Regions from separate parts of the Homo sapiens genome. Here region 2 is linked to region 1. Evidence: fine-mapped expression QTL. Tissue or cell type: cerebellum. Region 1 holds a variant in brackets; the other region holds the start of a gene. All regions are shown on one strand. Distances are from middle to middle.

The links. PIP is the estimated chance that this variant, and not a neighbour inherited with it, causes the effect.
Region 2: CDON starts here. The variant in region 1 is fine-mapped to the expression of CDON in cerebellum (GTEx, PIP above 0.99). The same link has a PIP of 0.9 or more in cerebellar hemisphere.

Annotation. Positions count from the first base shown.
Region 1 is chr11:125,970,161-125,978,264 of GRCh38, reverse strand. The region is part of intron 18 of CDON (cell adhesion associated, oncogene regulated); the gene reads left to right. Among named protein-coding and RNA genes, the nearest start is that of VSIG10L2, 28 kb to the right of the region's middle. The variant C/T (reference allele first, on the strand shown) is at 4,809.
Region 2 is chr11:126,059,003-126,067,106 of GRCh38, reverse strand. CDON (cell adhesion associated, oncogene regulated) reads left to right here and starts at 4,241. Exons shown (of 20, transcript NM_001378964.1): 1 at 4,241-4,528. RefSeq lists silencers at 3,654-3,743, 3,814-4,483 and an enhancer at 6,684-8,104.

The sequences.
Region 1 (8,104 bases):
GGCATATGCATCCTTTTATTTTTCCCTTCAGCAAAGAAAGTTCTTGGAATTTTACCTAGGATATAAAGTTCAGGATTTGCAATCTTAAATTTAAAGCTGTTACTAATTTTTTGCCTCTGCTTTCCAATTTTTGTCTTTTTGTGCCTCGGTTTCTTCAGCTATATAGAAACCATCTTAAAGGCTCTATTTGTCACTGAAATATTATTATAAGGCTTAATGTTTTTGAAAATTTTAAATTAGAGTCATTCTCTGTTATAAAGACTTTATCTTTTCTCACCTTTTATTTTCTACTCTATGTTATGGGATGTTATGAGGATGAATGACAGTGTTTCTGAGTGTTGGGGGGAGGGGGGAACCCTCTGTATATAGTAATTTTTTTCACAGTAATGTTACTGAAATTTTCCTACCAGATTATCCAGTGTTTTTTTTTAATTCTTAAAATCTTAAGAAAATTAAGCAGCAAACCCTTGCTTTGAATTTTGTGTTTTAATTTTAAAAGTGGTATGTACTCACAATATTTCAAACAAGATAGAAATATGGAGAGCAATGTGCATTTAACACATAGGATACTCGGCACACTTTCCTACGACCTCTCTCTATGGTAATCCCAAGGATTACCAAGCTTTTTGTTGTATTAAAGTTGTTTCAGAAATCTTAGTTCTTTCTTTTACATAATGATGTTATTGAATTACATGGTGTCAAAAGTCCTTCCTTCTCAGTCCTAAAACTCTACAACCAAAAAGATTATGTCATAGTTAGTACATAAAATAACTGGAGTATGGGTGGGAGTTTAGATATTTTATTATTGAAATGATGTTTGACCTATATATTTAAAATGGATTAACAGGTTAAGAGTTGTCTCTGGGAGTTATTGAAACCAGAACTTGAAGAAGGATCAGGCCAACCATCAAATTAAAAATACGTTGTTCCAGCCTGTGTTTTGAGAGTTGCAGAACAAAAGCAACAGAGCTTCTTGGAGATTGTTTGTTATCATTTACTTAACCCATTTCAGGGTGTCTATAAAAGAGCCATCTGCTTCTTTTATGTACTAAGGTTTGCTTGTTACGTATTTAAATTCTATATGACCCTGGTTTTGCAAATGTTCATAACATTGAAACCACATTTTTGTCTTGAGCTTTTCATGGACTTTACCGTAGTTTGTTAGGCAACGTGCTAAAGACCTGGTAAAGGTGGTTCATGTACCTGGCGAGTAATCAGACGGATTTAGTTACAAGTGGTCTTGCTTAAAATTTTAACGTGTTTTCTTTTGTGGTTCTTGGTCATCAGCAGATCTTGGTTCTCCTGGACAATAGAATGGTATAACGACAGGATCTCTGGTCTAAGAATAAGTAGACCTGGGCTGTGACATAGCTTAAACCTGTGATCTTGCGAAAGTAACGTAATGTTTCTGAAGCTATTTCCTTAACTAAAAAGGGGAAAATTGTCCTAGGTAATGTAAGATTGCTCCCAACATAATCTGACGGTAGTCTCTGGCAATTTCCTGCCAATCATGTCTTTTTGATGAAGTATCATCTTAATATCAAGAATGCATCCCATTTCCTTAGAAGGACTTATATGACCTCTGCCATTTAAATGACCTTGGCTTTGTGGCTATTTGTATGTGTAGTGTGTGTGTGTGTGTGTGTTTGTGTGTGTGTGTGCATGTGTGTGTATGTAGTATTTTAGTATTTTCAAGTTTTTATTATACAGTTTTTTTTTCCTTTAAGACAATGAACAATTGTATTTCTATTAATTTTCAAGTTAATGACTTACTACATTTCATGTGTGTGGGTTTTACTGTTATCTGGGAATTTAGGTGAATTCTCTTCAGCTTGGAACACCAGATTCTTTTTCTTCCTGGTTTCAATTTTCTTCCTCATGAGAATCTGCCTGTTTAGTGCAAGTCTTTACTTGCCTGCATTGCCTTCAAGGTTAGCCAGTGTCTCACCTGGCTCCCAGGAGCAACTGTATGATTTTGACACTCAATAATTGGACAGATAAGTATCAATAAGTACCTACCTTCAGCTCTAGAAAATTTGAATTATTAAATTTAAAGATTTTAAGTCTTTTCACTTTGGAATTGAGAACAGGTATCTCCTCTTAAGATCTTACAAATGACAAAATTTGTAAAAAGCTGTGAATGCCGAAAGGTAGATGATACGTGGTTTACTCTCAAAATATAGAAAATTATAGTCAATTTATGCTTTTAGAATATCGACATTGTTACTATGAATGAGTTTGCATTTCTGAATATCAGCTGAAATAGTGTAAACATAAAAAGAAGCGTGATTTCAGTTAAGTTATATGAGGGCTATCAAGTGGGCCTCATATGATTTTTGGCTGTTCAGTCAAACAAAACAAAACAAACATTTACTGAGCACTACCCAGGCTCTGGACTAGGTTCTGAGGTGTTTCCCCGTAGAAGGAATGTAAGAACAGTCATGGACGTAGAAAGGATAATGTTTACATAAGAATGAATAGGCGACTTCAGTGGTTCTCAAACTTTAGCGTGCATCACTTGAAACACTTAATAAAAACGCACATTACTAGGCTCTACTCCCACTCCTATTCTTAGACCAGAGTTTCCCATTCAGCAGGTCTAGGGTGGGGCCTGAGAATTTGCATTTCTAATGAGTTCGCAGATGGTACTGATGCCCATGGTCCTGGGACCATGCTTTGAGAACCGCTGGAATAATTTGATCGGCTGTGAAGTGCAACTAGAGAATAGTAGGATATTGAAATTGGACAACTGGACTGAGTTTATATAGTGGATAACCCTGAATGTGAAGGTTTAGTAGTTTATTTAATAAACAAGTCCTATTACTTAATAATAGTCCTATTAAATATTATTTATTAAATAAGCAAGTTTATTTAATAAACAAGGCCTTTTATTGAGTGCCTGTCATGTACTGGGTACTGGCCTAGGCCCTGCCTTCAGAGAGTCCATAGTCTAACAATAGTGATTCTCAGACAGAGGTAGGGATATAGTGAGTAGAGTTTGAAGAAGCACGTTGAGTTTTATAATTTTATATTTAAAGAATAGAAAAAAATCTCTATGTCTGTAATGTCTATGTATACAAGGGTATGCAATTTTTATATTAATCAAAAGGGGATATGCGTTAAATGTTGAGAAACACTGGGGTAGCAGCATCATAATTGTTGCAAAGCTTATTGAGAACAGGAATGATCTGTTCAGAGATATGCTCAGGCTGGATGAAAGATGGCAGTGCACAGGAGGGAAGGGAGGGAGGGGATCAGTGAGACATGGGGAATGGGGATGAAGAGGAAGGGATGAGTGAGACTGCAGACATGGAGTCTTCAGGACTTGGCCATTGACTGACAGGGATCTAGAAAAACAGAAGATTCCAGATGTGTAAGAAGTTTCAAACATGGATGATCTGGGTGGTAGTCATAGTAATAAGAAACTTAATAAAATGATACATCATAAAAAGGTGATAAATTTGGTTTTAGAGTTGAAGTATGAGTTGATATCTTAAGGAGAAAGATGAAAATGCTGGTCTTGGCTTCAGGGGGTAGAATGGAACTGTGATACAGATTTAGGACCATTTTAAGTTCTATCCAAGTAATAGAACTTAAAAACAGATGAGACACCAAAGGAGACAATATCCTTGGCAGATTGATTATTTTTATATATTTAATTATTTGATGCATTTATTTGCTTTTATTATGTATTTAAAGTGATTAGACATTCTTTTTATAAGACATCATATCTTTTGTTATTTTTTCTTACTGCCTTAATACATCTTCAGAGAATAACAGAGATGGGAAAAGGAGAATGATAAAATAAGGAGAGTAAAAAAGAAAAAAAGAATTCCCTCCCTCCCTCCCTCCCTCCCTCCCTCCCTCCCTCCCTTCCTTCCTTCCTTCCTTCCTTCCTACCTACCTACCTACCTACCTACCTACAAATGTTTGCTGCAGGTCTCTAGTGAGCCAAGCACCAAACTAGGTACTGGGGATATGGCAGTGAGCATAACAGGCATTGCTCCTGCCTGCGTGGAGCTTAGAGTTTAATAGGGGAGACATATCTTTTAAGAAAATGACATAAATCGGCGGGGTGCAGTGGCTCACGCCTGTAATCCCAGCACTTTGGGAGGCTATGGCGGGCGGATCACCTGAGGTCAGGAGTTTGAGACCAACCTGGCCAATGTGGTGAAACCCCATCTCTACTAAAAATACAAAAATTAGCTGGGCATGGTGGCAAGTGTCTGTAATCCCAGCTACACCGGAGGATGAAGCAGAAGAATCACTTGAACCCGGGAGGCAGAGGTTGCAATGAGCCAAGATCACGCCACTGCACTCCAGGCTGGGCAACAAGAGCGAAACTCTGTCTCAAAAGAAAAAAAAAATGACATAAATAATAAAAATGAATATGTAATTAAATCTGGATGCTTTAAAGGAAAAGTAAAGAATGTGGGAGAGAGGAAAGCCCTCTGTAAGCAAGTGGCATTTTGCTGAGCTCTGAAGATTTATAAAATTAGGTCTAAGGGAAGGAAATAAGTTTAGAGCTTTCCAGGCAAAGGGGACCATTTATACACAATCTCTAAAACAGAATGCCTGAATCCTCAAAGAACTTAAAGAAGGCCAACATAGCAGAAACCTAGTAACTGGAGGAGTCAGAATTAAAAGGCGAGTGAAATCAGATCACACAGAGCCATGGCACATCTGTGGATGGTTTTAAGCAGGAATTCGTTTTTGTTTTTGTTTTTGTTTTCTGAGATGGAGTCTCACTCTGTTGCCCAGGCTGGAGTGCAGTGGCACGATCTTGGCTCACTGCAACCTCCACCTCC[C/T]GGGTTCAAGCAATTCTCTGCCTCAGCCTCCCAAGTAGCTGGGATTACAGGTGCCCGCCACCACGCCCGGCTAATTTTTTGCATTTTTAGTAGAGACGGGGTTTCACCATGTCAGTCAGGCTGATCTTGAACTCCTAACCTCATGATCCACCCGTCTTGGCCTCCCAAAGTGCTGGGATTACAGGCATGAGCCACCATGCCCAGCTGAATTTGGGTTTTTAAAGAACACTCTGGATGCAGTTTGGAGACTAAATTGGATGGGGCAGGAGAGGATACCTGGAGACCAGTTAGATGGCAGTTGCAGTAGTCCAGATGAGAAACAGTAGACTAGCATAGTTGTAGGGAGAGAAAGAGAAGAATTTTGAGAGAATTAGGATTTAGAAGGAGATGAGTCTGAATGAGTCTGAGGGATTTAAAAAAAAAAAAAAAAAAAAAAAAGACCAAGTAATTGGTTGAAGAGGCCAGTGGAGGAAGCAGTTGAAGATGATGTCTAGGTGTCTGGGCGCAGTCACTGAGGCAGAGAACACTGCAGGAGATGAAGAGGAGCTGCCCCACAGTATACTTCTGGAGAGTTGTCCTCTGAGATCTGGTGGTGCCTCTGCAATTCGCCTTCTTTATTCCACAGATACTGAGAACTGGAGAAGTCTTGCATGGGGCCTTTTCCGTACGGACTCTTACCTGCTCTGTGCCCTGCCACTCCAGGTTCTTTTTTCTCTGCCTTCTCAGTTGTAAACTTAAGCATATTTCTTGGAGTGAGCTTTTAAGAAACATTGCCAACCCTTGACCCCTTTTATCACCCATCTATTTTAGTAATAACCATCTGGAGGGAAAACGTTGCCTCTATTATGTAAATGAGAGTATGATGTGAAAAGTTGAGAGCAGGTGAGGGGAGGGTGCACTGTATAGATCTGTGGGGAAGTTGTAGTTGATTCTGGGGCTCTTGTGACATGCTGTAAATGACCGCTTGCCTCACTGGGTTCCATGACCTTGAATCCTTTTTAGTTTCTTTTGATTTTCTTTTGTTTTTTTTGAGACAGAGTCTCACTCCAGTACCCAGGCTGGAGTGCAGTGGTGTAGTCTTGGCTCACTGCAACGCCGCTTCCTGGGTTCAAGCGATTCTCATGCCTCAGCCTCCTTAGTAGCTGGAATTACAGGCGTGTGGCACCATGGCTGGCTAATTTTTTTGTATTTTTAGTAGAGACGGAGTTTTGCCATGTTGGCTAGGCTGGTCTCGCACTCCTGGCCTCATGTGATCTGCCCGCCTCGGCCTCCCAATGTTCTGAGATTACAGGCGCGAGCTACCGCGCCTGACCCCTTTGCAGTTTTTAAGAGTAATATGTAAAGCTCACTATGAATGCCTAGAAAGAAGCATATTTAAGGCAGCTTTGCAGAGAGCCAGTTCCTTACACCAGAGACCTAATCAAGAAATCCTTGTGCCATTTGGGCATTTCAAGAGTTAAATGGATTTTAATCAAAAAACATCGAAAGCTTTCTACCCTTCTCTTCTCTTCTCCTGAATTCAAAAGGCAGTAATGCAGTTCTGGATATGTAATTAAATGTGGCTTATCAGTTGCTTGGCTAGTTTAATGGAAAGGGATTGGCATTAAATCTGGTCTTTTTTAGCATCAGCCTTGATAATTTGTAAGAGAGAGTAGAGAGGACACTGATGAAATTCACAGATGAACGGACCGAGAGACCCCATCAGGAAGGAATGAGAAATTAACTCGAAGGGTCGTAGAGAGACTGGAGATGGACAGGAAGTCTCCCAGCGAAAATCAGCTTGGAAAAATTATATAATTCATCTGGGAAAAAAAGTACAAATTACATGGCTGATAGTCAAGAGAAGTAGTAAAACTACTGGGAACGGTGCTTTAGAGAACAGAGATACTACAAATGACTTCAGAGTTTTGTATAATGACAACCTTAAAAGTCTGTGTGTTGGATTTGGGAATGCTCTTTCACCAACTTGAAACCCTCCGTGGATGTCAGATGTCCTCCGATGACAACAACATGTAGAGATGAATATGAGAACATTAATTATTATTATTTATTTATTTATTTATTTATTTATTTAGAGACAGAGTCTCGCTGTGTCGCCCAGGCTGGAGTGCAGTGGTGCGATCTCGGCTCACTGCAAGCTCCACCTCCCAGGTTCACGCCATTCTCCTGCCTCAGCCTCCTGAGTTGCTGGGACTACAAGTGCCCGCCACCACACCCAGCTAATTTTTTATGTTTTTAGTAGAGATGGGGTTTCACTGTGTTAGCCAGGATGGTCTTGGTCTCCTGACCTCGTGATCCGCCCGCCTTGGCCCCCCAAAGTACTGGGATTACAGGCGTGAGCCACCGGAGAACGTTAATTATCATAGCAGTTCTTTCAGGCCTAAGGTTTGATCTACCCAGTTGGTTTGCTAAGTATTAAAACAACAAGTTGTCCAGTTCACCTGAGCTTTTTCTTCCAGCAGAAAACAGGCATTCAGCTTCTCTTCCATCTATGGTAATCTCCCTATTTCCCTAAGAAATTCAGAGTGCTGTGTTGAATTTTAAAAATTGATCAGTGCTTTCCTTTTGGGGAAGTTATATATCTCCCCAAGTCTGTCTCGTACTTCTAAGATGGAGACCTAGCGCCTGTTGTCAGGGAGTCCAGCTTTTTGTCTTTCTTTATAAGCTCGTGTGTGTCTGTCAACTTGCCATGTTCAGGAATACACTCAGTCATTTGTTGTCACTCAACATTTACTGTCATGTTTTATGTGACAGCTGCTGATAGATTAATTCCCAAAAGGAAACTCCCACTCTAATGCTGCGGTCATCGCAGCATCCAACAGAGCAGATATCGAGAAGGGAAGACGGCCATGGCCCTGGAGCGGTGCCATCAGGGTTCTTTAGGTAGTAACTGATAAGCTCCCGAAAATAAGAGCTGGGTCAGCAAAATGACACAGTGACTAGTGGAAACAGCAGAGGTGAGTGGAATTTTAACATAAACTACTGGCCGGGTGCGGTGGCTCACGTCTGTAATCCCAGCACTTTGGGAGACTGAAGCAGGCAGATCACGAGGTCAGAAGTTCGAGACCAGCCTGACCAACATGGTGAAACCCCATCTCTACTAAAAAAACAAAAATCAGCCAGGCGTGGTGGCGCGCGCCTGTAATCTCAGCTACTCTGGAGCCTGAGGCAGGAGAATTGCTTGAATCCGGGAGGCAGAGGTTGCGGTGAGTCGAGATCGCGCCACTGCACTCCAGCCTGGCGACAGAGCAAGACTCTGTCTCAAAAAAAAAAAAAAAAAAAAACATAAACTACCA
Region 2 (8,104 bases), 89 kb before region 1:
TATGTTAAAAACACTTTTATCCAGTGTTTGCTACTTGCCAATCACTGTATTAAGTGCTTTGTGTGTATCATCTCAATTAATCCTCCTAGCAAACCACTGAAGTAGGTCCTATTAACAACTCTATATGAGGTATTATTACTCTTTACAAATGATGAAGTCATTTACAACTTTACAAATGATGAAATCAAGACTCCAAGAGTTTAAGTTATTTGACCAAGATCAAATAAGGTACAGTCAGAATGTGATACAAGTTTATGGACTCTAGTTACTCTATTATGTTATTCTTGGAGAACCATTTTTGTTTTTGTTTTTGAGATGGCGTCTTGCTCTGTCGCCCAGGCTGGAGTGCAGTGATGGGATCTCGGCTCACTGCAAGCTCCGCCTCCTGGGTTCATGCCATTCTCCTGCCTCAGCCTCCCGAGTAGCTGGGACTGTAGGCACCCACCATCACGCCTGGCTGATTGTTTGTATTTTTAGTACAGACGGGGTTTCACCATGTCAGCCAGGATGGTCTTGATCTCCTGACCTCATGATCTGCCCGCCTCGGCCTCTCAAAGTGCTGGGATTACAGGTGTGAGCCACCGCGCCCGGCCTTGGAGAACCAATTTTAACATGTATTGAGTATTATAAAAGCACCCACTTCAGGCCTGGAATGTATTAAATGTCACTTAGTATCTAACAACCTTCCCACCTCATCCCTGAGGACTTGAGTACTTGGCTCATGGTATTTCATTTATCAGCCTCTCAGTTCCTTCAATATGTCCCCTGACGGCATAAATCATCCACATCGTCCACCAGCACCGGTAAACATACTAGATCTAATCATTACTTGGAACTGTTCTACTTCTGAAATGGTAAACTCTGGTTATTACCAAAGACTTCTTGGTTCTTTCTTACTCAATCCTGTAACAACAGCTCTTTAATGTCATACATATCTCCTTTTCTTTAATTTGTAATTTTTCCAGTCTATTATTCTTCTCAAACCTCTTACACCTTTTCCACTGCCTGGATTCTATGATTGCTGTTTTAAAAATTTTCTTACCAATACCGTGTGTTATTTTCCTTCTTGTACAACTTCCAGAAAAACTTCAAAATTGGGTTGGTGTTATGCTTTTCCCCTTCTACCTGACTGATTAAATTTTGATGGAGAAAACCACATAATCATGCAAGCTCCATCACCATACATTAATGGTCTCCAACCTCAGCCAGGCCCTCAGCATCACTTATCAATTCTCTGAGTGATTTTCTACTTTCATTTTTCAACTCTCATTTTTCCTAATGACTATTCCAAACCTTCACCACCTTCTTCAAGCATCCTTTTCAAGTCCCATACCTTGAGTTCAGTAAACAGCCTTTGCTCCAAATTCATCAAGATAATTGGGGGCTTTAGTTATTGGAGTTTTAGAGATCCATCCTTGGCTACAACTTTCTGGTTCCATATTATTCCTGAGAGATCGCTTCCACTTTAATGGTATAAACACTACTTTATGCTGATGACGTTTAAATCCGTATTTCCACTTGGAGTTCTCTACATAGTGGACATCTGTGGTTGGAGGCCCCATAGTGTCTTAGTCTGTTTCTGCTGCTATAACAAAATGCCTTAGATTGGGTACTCTTTAAGCAACAGAAATTTATTTCTCATAGTTATGGAGGTTGGGAAATCCAAGATCAAGGTGCCTGCAGATTCAGGGTCTGGTAAGTGCCTACTCCTTACAGATGATGACCTCTCTGTGTCCTCCCACGGCAGAAGGGACAGAAGGGGCTAGCTAGCTCCTTGAAGCCCTTTTATAAGGTCATGAATCTTGCTCATGAGGGTGGTCCTCATGACTTAGTCAGCTTCTAAAGTCTCCACCTCTTAATACTATCACCTCTTAATACTATCACCTCTTAATACTATCACCTCTTAATACTATCACCTCTTAATACTATCACCTCTTAATACTATCACCTCTTAATACTATCACCTCTTAATACTATCACCTCTTAATACTATCACCTCTTAATACTATCACCTCTTAATACTATCACCTCTTAATACTATCACCTCTTAATACTATCACCTCTTAATACTATACTCAATACTATACTGACCTTGTGTTCACACAGCTCCCTGTTCATTGCACTGAAGATGTCTCCTTGTACTTACCCACGTGTGTGTCTGTATCACAGTTAGACTGTGAGCTCTTTGAAGCTTGGGACTGCACATTGTTTCTTAATGTTGAACAAATGGATGAATGATTCATTAATGAAAAACTGTTTTACACCTGAAATGATTTCTCTGCTTTACAAAAAAAGGGGGAGAGGAAGTAATTAATATCAACAAACATTGTGATTTTTTTCTTAGTCTGACTATGAGTAACAGTAGGCATAGTGAATTCAAATGGCACTGTGAGATCTGGAGGTGCACAAAGTGCATTATGTCCCAGGAGAAGAACCTGGAATTCTCTGTAGCCACAATAAATTTGCAAGACTTCTATTAACATCCACACAAAACTCTCATTTCAGTTAAATCCTCTATAGAAAGACTTACTTGCCGAATGAAAAATCGTTTACCATAGCTTGTTAATAACATATAGATTCTTGGTCTCCAAAAGTGAACAATAGAACAGTGGAGGACAAACTAGAGTTAAGAGTTTTTTTCTGGCTGGGTGTGGTGGCTCACGCCTGTAATCCCAGCACTTTGGGAGGCCAAGGCGGGAGAATCATCTGAGGTCAGGAGTTCAAGACCAACCTGGCCAACATGGCAAAACCCCGTTTCTACTGAAAATACAAAAATTAGCCGGGTGTGGTGGCACGTGCTGTAATCCCAGCTACTTGGGAGGCTGAGGCAGGAGAATCGCTTGCACTCGGGAGGCGGAGGTTGCAGTGAGCCAAGATCGCACCATTGCACTCCAGCCTGGGCAACAAGAGCACCCCAGCCTGGGCGACAGAGTGAGACTCCGTCTTAAGAAAAAAAATTGTGTTTTTTTTTTCCGTCCTGTACTGACTTTCTTTCCAGGGGCTTTACAAAAACCCTGAATCTAGCTAATGCAGAAAGCTAACCTGCTTGAACAATACCACACTTTCAAAGCATTTCTTTTTAAAATTCACGTAAGAAGGTAAGGGAGGACTGGCATATTTCTCCTGAAGTTCAGTACTGAGTATTTATAAACTTAACTATTATTAGGGATCCTTTTGTAGTTAAGCTAATAGTAAGTAATGATGATGGGGAAAAAAAAGAGCTAACTGCTAATAATAACAATTTATAAAGAAGTTACAGTCCTTGAATGCCCACTGAGTGGCAGGTGCTTTTCACAAAGTATCGTATTTACGCTTCACAGCAACATTTTGAATAGAAATTTATTTTTCCTTTTTCTGTTTGAACAACTGAAGTTCATTGAGTTCAGATAACTTGGGGCAGGTCCAACGGACGAGTTGGAAAGACTCTGGGGCCAAAGGCTCACACCACGCCTCTCCTAGCCCCTGAGTTTTGCTACCTGCTTGCGTTTATGTGCAGGCAGGGCGGGTGGGTGGTGGTGGGGGAATCAGATGAAGCTGCCTAAGGAATTAAACATGGAAAGTGGTGGAAAGGCGAAGGAGGTATAAGCGGTGGGCCGCTGGAACCCTAAGAGAGACCAGGCAAGAACCGGGAGAAGGGATGCACCCGTTGGCGGCTCAGAGAACTTAGGTAGAGGCGAGGGGCGGGGCGGGGCGAGGGGCGGGGCCTGAACGAGGCTAGGGCGGGGCCCGAACGAGGCTAGGGCGGGGCCCGAACGAGGCTAGGGCGGGGCCTCGGGGGACAGAGTCGACCATTTGGAGACCTGCCAGAAGAGCCGTCTCTCCAAGGGAATGAAAGGTGAGGGGAGCGTGAGTGCAGGCATGATGGGAATCTCCGTGACTTGGTAAGGCAACTCACCCTTACCTGTCCTACACCCAAGAAAAGCCTCTTCTATGCTCCCCTGGGGTATCTCTCTTGCAGAGTAGGCAGGTCAATGACGAGGAGAGGGTCCTGCCCAGAGCGTGCCCCCCTCCGTCACTTGGTACGGCCCGTGCCCCCGCCGCTGATCTGGCAGGCTGCGCGCGCACACTCCGGCCGGGTGCGGGCCGGCGGGGCACAGCGGCCTCTACGGCCCGCCTCCGTCAGTCATTCCCCGGTCCCTCCTCCCGCTGCTCGCGTGCTCCGGGCCGGCCCAGCACCCTCCGAGTTACGTGCCCGCGCTCCCCGGCGGGGAGGAGCGCAGCCGCGGGGGCGCGCCCCGGTGACTCCGCCCCTCAGCTCCCCTCCCCTGAGCCCGGGAGCCCGGCTCGCGCGGCTAGGTGCGAGGAGACCCGGGACCCCACGCCCGCCCGCCCTGCCCAGCGCCCCAGCCCCGGCGTGCGAGGCGCCGCTCCCTCCTCTGCCCTGCGCGGTGCATGGAGGGGCCCGTTCGGATCGCAGCCGCCGCCACCGTAGCCGCCGCCGCGCGCGCGCGGGGGGATGACCTGGGGGTGGCTTTCCGAGCCGGCTGCAGCGCAGGAGGTCTGGAGGCTTAGCCAGCCCCGCGGAGAGGTGCGGGGGTGGGGGTCCCGCCGCAGGGTCGGAGGGAGGGGTGGCGCGCGGGCACTGGGCTTGGGGGGCCTTGGCTTAGGGGACGGGAGGTCCCGGGGACGGGCGGGCCGGCGTTCCCTGGAGGGCGTGGGGGTGCAGGGCTGCGTGCGGGGTCTGGATGCTGATGCTTGCCCGGCGGGGAGCCCCGGCGTTCCGCGTCCTCGGGGGCTCGGAGGCACCTCGCGGGAGGAGGCGGGGTGAGGTGTCAGTGACACGACGAAACCTCTTCTTGACGATGGTCCTCGGGGGCAGGTGAGATGCCGCAGAGCGGGGAGCTAGGGCGCCCGCGCGTTTTCCCAAGGGAGCCGGGTCCCTGGCCTCTCTCAATCTCCATCCCTGCAGAGCGCCCGCGAGAGACAGTGATTTATGTGTAGGGAGAAGCAAGAGAAATTTCCTGCACAATGTATCTTTCTCTGCCTTCACAAGACTCACTGACTTCCCAGCCCCAGGGAGTGTATTTTTCCTTCTCCTCTGTAAAGCTTTCTGTGGATTGCATTATCATTTGCTAAATACATTACAGCTCGCTATTTATTTCAGTCGGCAGCTTCCAGACCTTTGTTGCTTTCTCTCCACATCTAGGAATTTCAGCAATAAATCACTGAGGGGGATAGATAGACTCTCTTGCCCTTCCCTTCATTGTTCTCCCTAACCCCACCAAATCAGGTGGAAGGCTCTCCAAAAGGAGCTGTTTCCAGAATGCCTGCCCTTCCTCATCAGGACGACAGAGGGTGGCAGGTGCTTTAAGGGCAGACTGCTTTCCAGTGGGAATCCAGAATTTAGAGAACCTCATCAACAGAAAGTCAGCCTTTGTGTCCCAAACCAGACACCTTGAAAAACAGGAGGTTGGACTAAAAGCTCACATGAGATTTATTTTCAGGCCTATGCCAGTAAAGATGAAAGACGCCAAGTCAGTGAATTCTGATTCCTTTCGGCGCTGATAACATAACCCTCAAATTCCCAACTGACACTTGGCATACCTAGTGGACAGTGTCTCCAAGGAGAGGAAGGTGGGGAGGGTGTTAGAAAATGAAATGAGTTTATTGTCAGCATAATTCTAAACATTCTATGACATTTTGTAGTTCTCCCCCACCCTCAGTCTATTTTTAGCTGAAAATTTGGGGATAGTTCAACTTTTAAGATAAGATGAAAGAAAACCTTCAAAAAATTTTCTGGAAATTTTAAATTAGTGCTTAACTAGAAAGCATTCTTTGGAACCCGAGAAGCACCAAATACTGCAGTCTCTGTTATGCACATGTTGGAATGAACTGCCTCATACTTGAAGTTATATGAGAAGGATGGAGAAAACCTGTTTCATTTTGTAAAGACGTGCCCTGGGTGTGTGTTTGGCAGTGTGTAGAACAGAAACATTTATATTTCTATTAAGAAACACACAAATGTATACTGTTTAACTTTCATGCAAAAACTTCCCAGTGTTTGGGAAATCTGTCTTTGTTTGAATAGTTTAGTCAGCCAGGAGAATCAGTTACTAGAGGTACTGTGCTGTTGTTTGTGTAATAACTCACTTGGGATGCTTTGATTGATTGCCATGGTTCTCATCAGCCTCCTCTTCTGTGCAAAGTACTTAAACAGCTCTGACTCTCAAGCCTTCAAGTACAAAGAACCCTTAGGACTTGGATACTGATCTAGCTTGTGTAGCTTGGCTTCTAAATCTAGCTTACGCCTTGCTTTCTTTGCAGGTGGTTTGACTTTGCAGGAAAAGAATTAAGTTCACTTTAAGATAGGACTTTCTCCTCCAGATCGTCAGGGTATATACAGCTGAAGGCAGTAGGTAGGAATAGGAACTAATGTCCTAGGGCTTTGTTCTAAAGAGAGCAGGTAAAAATTTGTTGACTATTTCTTGGGCTTGCTTCTTATTTTCCCACTTCGCCCATCTGCCTTCATGACTTTGTAGACAATTTCATGTATGGTTTTGTCGAAATGTAAGTTGAAGTAAAATTTTCCTTCTGTAGAATTTTTTTTTTTCCACGAACGTTTAGACTAAAAATTGGTGATTGTTTCGAAGTTAAATACTAGGGAAATGATTTCAGGAATTAAATATTATCGTAGTAAAAATCAGGGAAGCGTTAGAAAATAAATAATGAGTTGAAAAATGTGTTGCTTTAACGTGTAATGATATGAGCCAGCGCCTTGTGATCAGCTATGGCATGATGTAGAAGTATGGGTAAGACAATACAGTGGAGCTGTAGATGAGCTGCGTACATGGTAGCCCCCCTTTAAGTAAATGAACTTAATACAAACTAATTAGATTAGAAACAGAATTTGGAGTATGGTTGCCAAATATTTTGAGTTGAAGGACTTGCTTTTTTACAGTATTTTTTAATGGGGAATTTTTTCAAGAAATTTCGTGAACTTGAATTTGAGAATGTTTTATTTTTACTTAAATTTTTATATTGTATGTAATCATTCCATGTGATAAGTTTTTGTTGTGTATTTGGCACTAACTCACTTTCAACAGCACAGGGGAGGGCTTTACTTGATTCTTTTTTGTTAAAAAGAAGGGATGGTGTATGGAATATTCTTAATGTCACTTGAAAAATATTGGATTACAATTAAATGAAAAACTGGTTTCTTGGTTTTTTTTTTTTTAATCCTTCAAGTTTTCCCTCATTGCTTGTGCTCTTTCCCCCATTGTCAGGCTTAAAACATACAGTATCATTGTCATCTGTCTCCTGAATAATGGTCCTGAGGTGATATTATTAATGTGGCTTTTTAAAATCAAGCTAATTATACTTGCCTAAAAGAGCCACATGTGTGTGATTCTAGCTGCCTGGTGCCTTTTGAGAGCCCTGGAGACAAGCTAGTGAATAGAGCTGAAAATTCATTCTGTATTTGATTAAATGGAACAGACTCGCTGCTCCTTACCCCAGCGGGGGCTATGAGATCTCTTGATCCCCGAAGCGGCTCCAAGACCCTGGGAATTCCATTAGCGAGCACCTGAGGAATTTCTGCCCTGCAGTGCCTTTTTTGTATGTGTGTATGTGTGTGTGTGCAGAGGGAGTGGAGCAGAGCGGGGATTGGGGGGATGCGGGCAGGGGGGGTTGAGGGGGTGGAGGGAAGGCTACATTAGAAGACTCCATATGTTGGCAGATCTAAAATCAAGGCATGACTTAACAGCTTATCTTGTAAGAGAAAAGCCCAACCCAAAGGCAGATTGCTAGTCCGGACTTTATTACAAGCAGGACTACAGTGATGTGTTTTCAGCACTGAAGTGAACTCCAGTGTAAGTACAGAAAGTGGCTTCTCTGCTTTCCCTCCGAAGCACAAGCATATACACGTTGCAGACTTGGTAAGTTTTCTTTGAATGATCTTTTGATAAATATGTAAAATTATCTTACTGTTTGGTCTTGCCTGTAAAGGCTGATGTATCGTTTTAATAACTTTCAAACTGAGAGCAAAATCAGACTTCATGTGAAACAAATGGTTTTGCAGTGATGAAATGCTTGTTTTAATAGGCATATTTTAGTTTACTATTGATAGAATTTGATTGTTTCTGTTACATTATTATTATTATAGAAT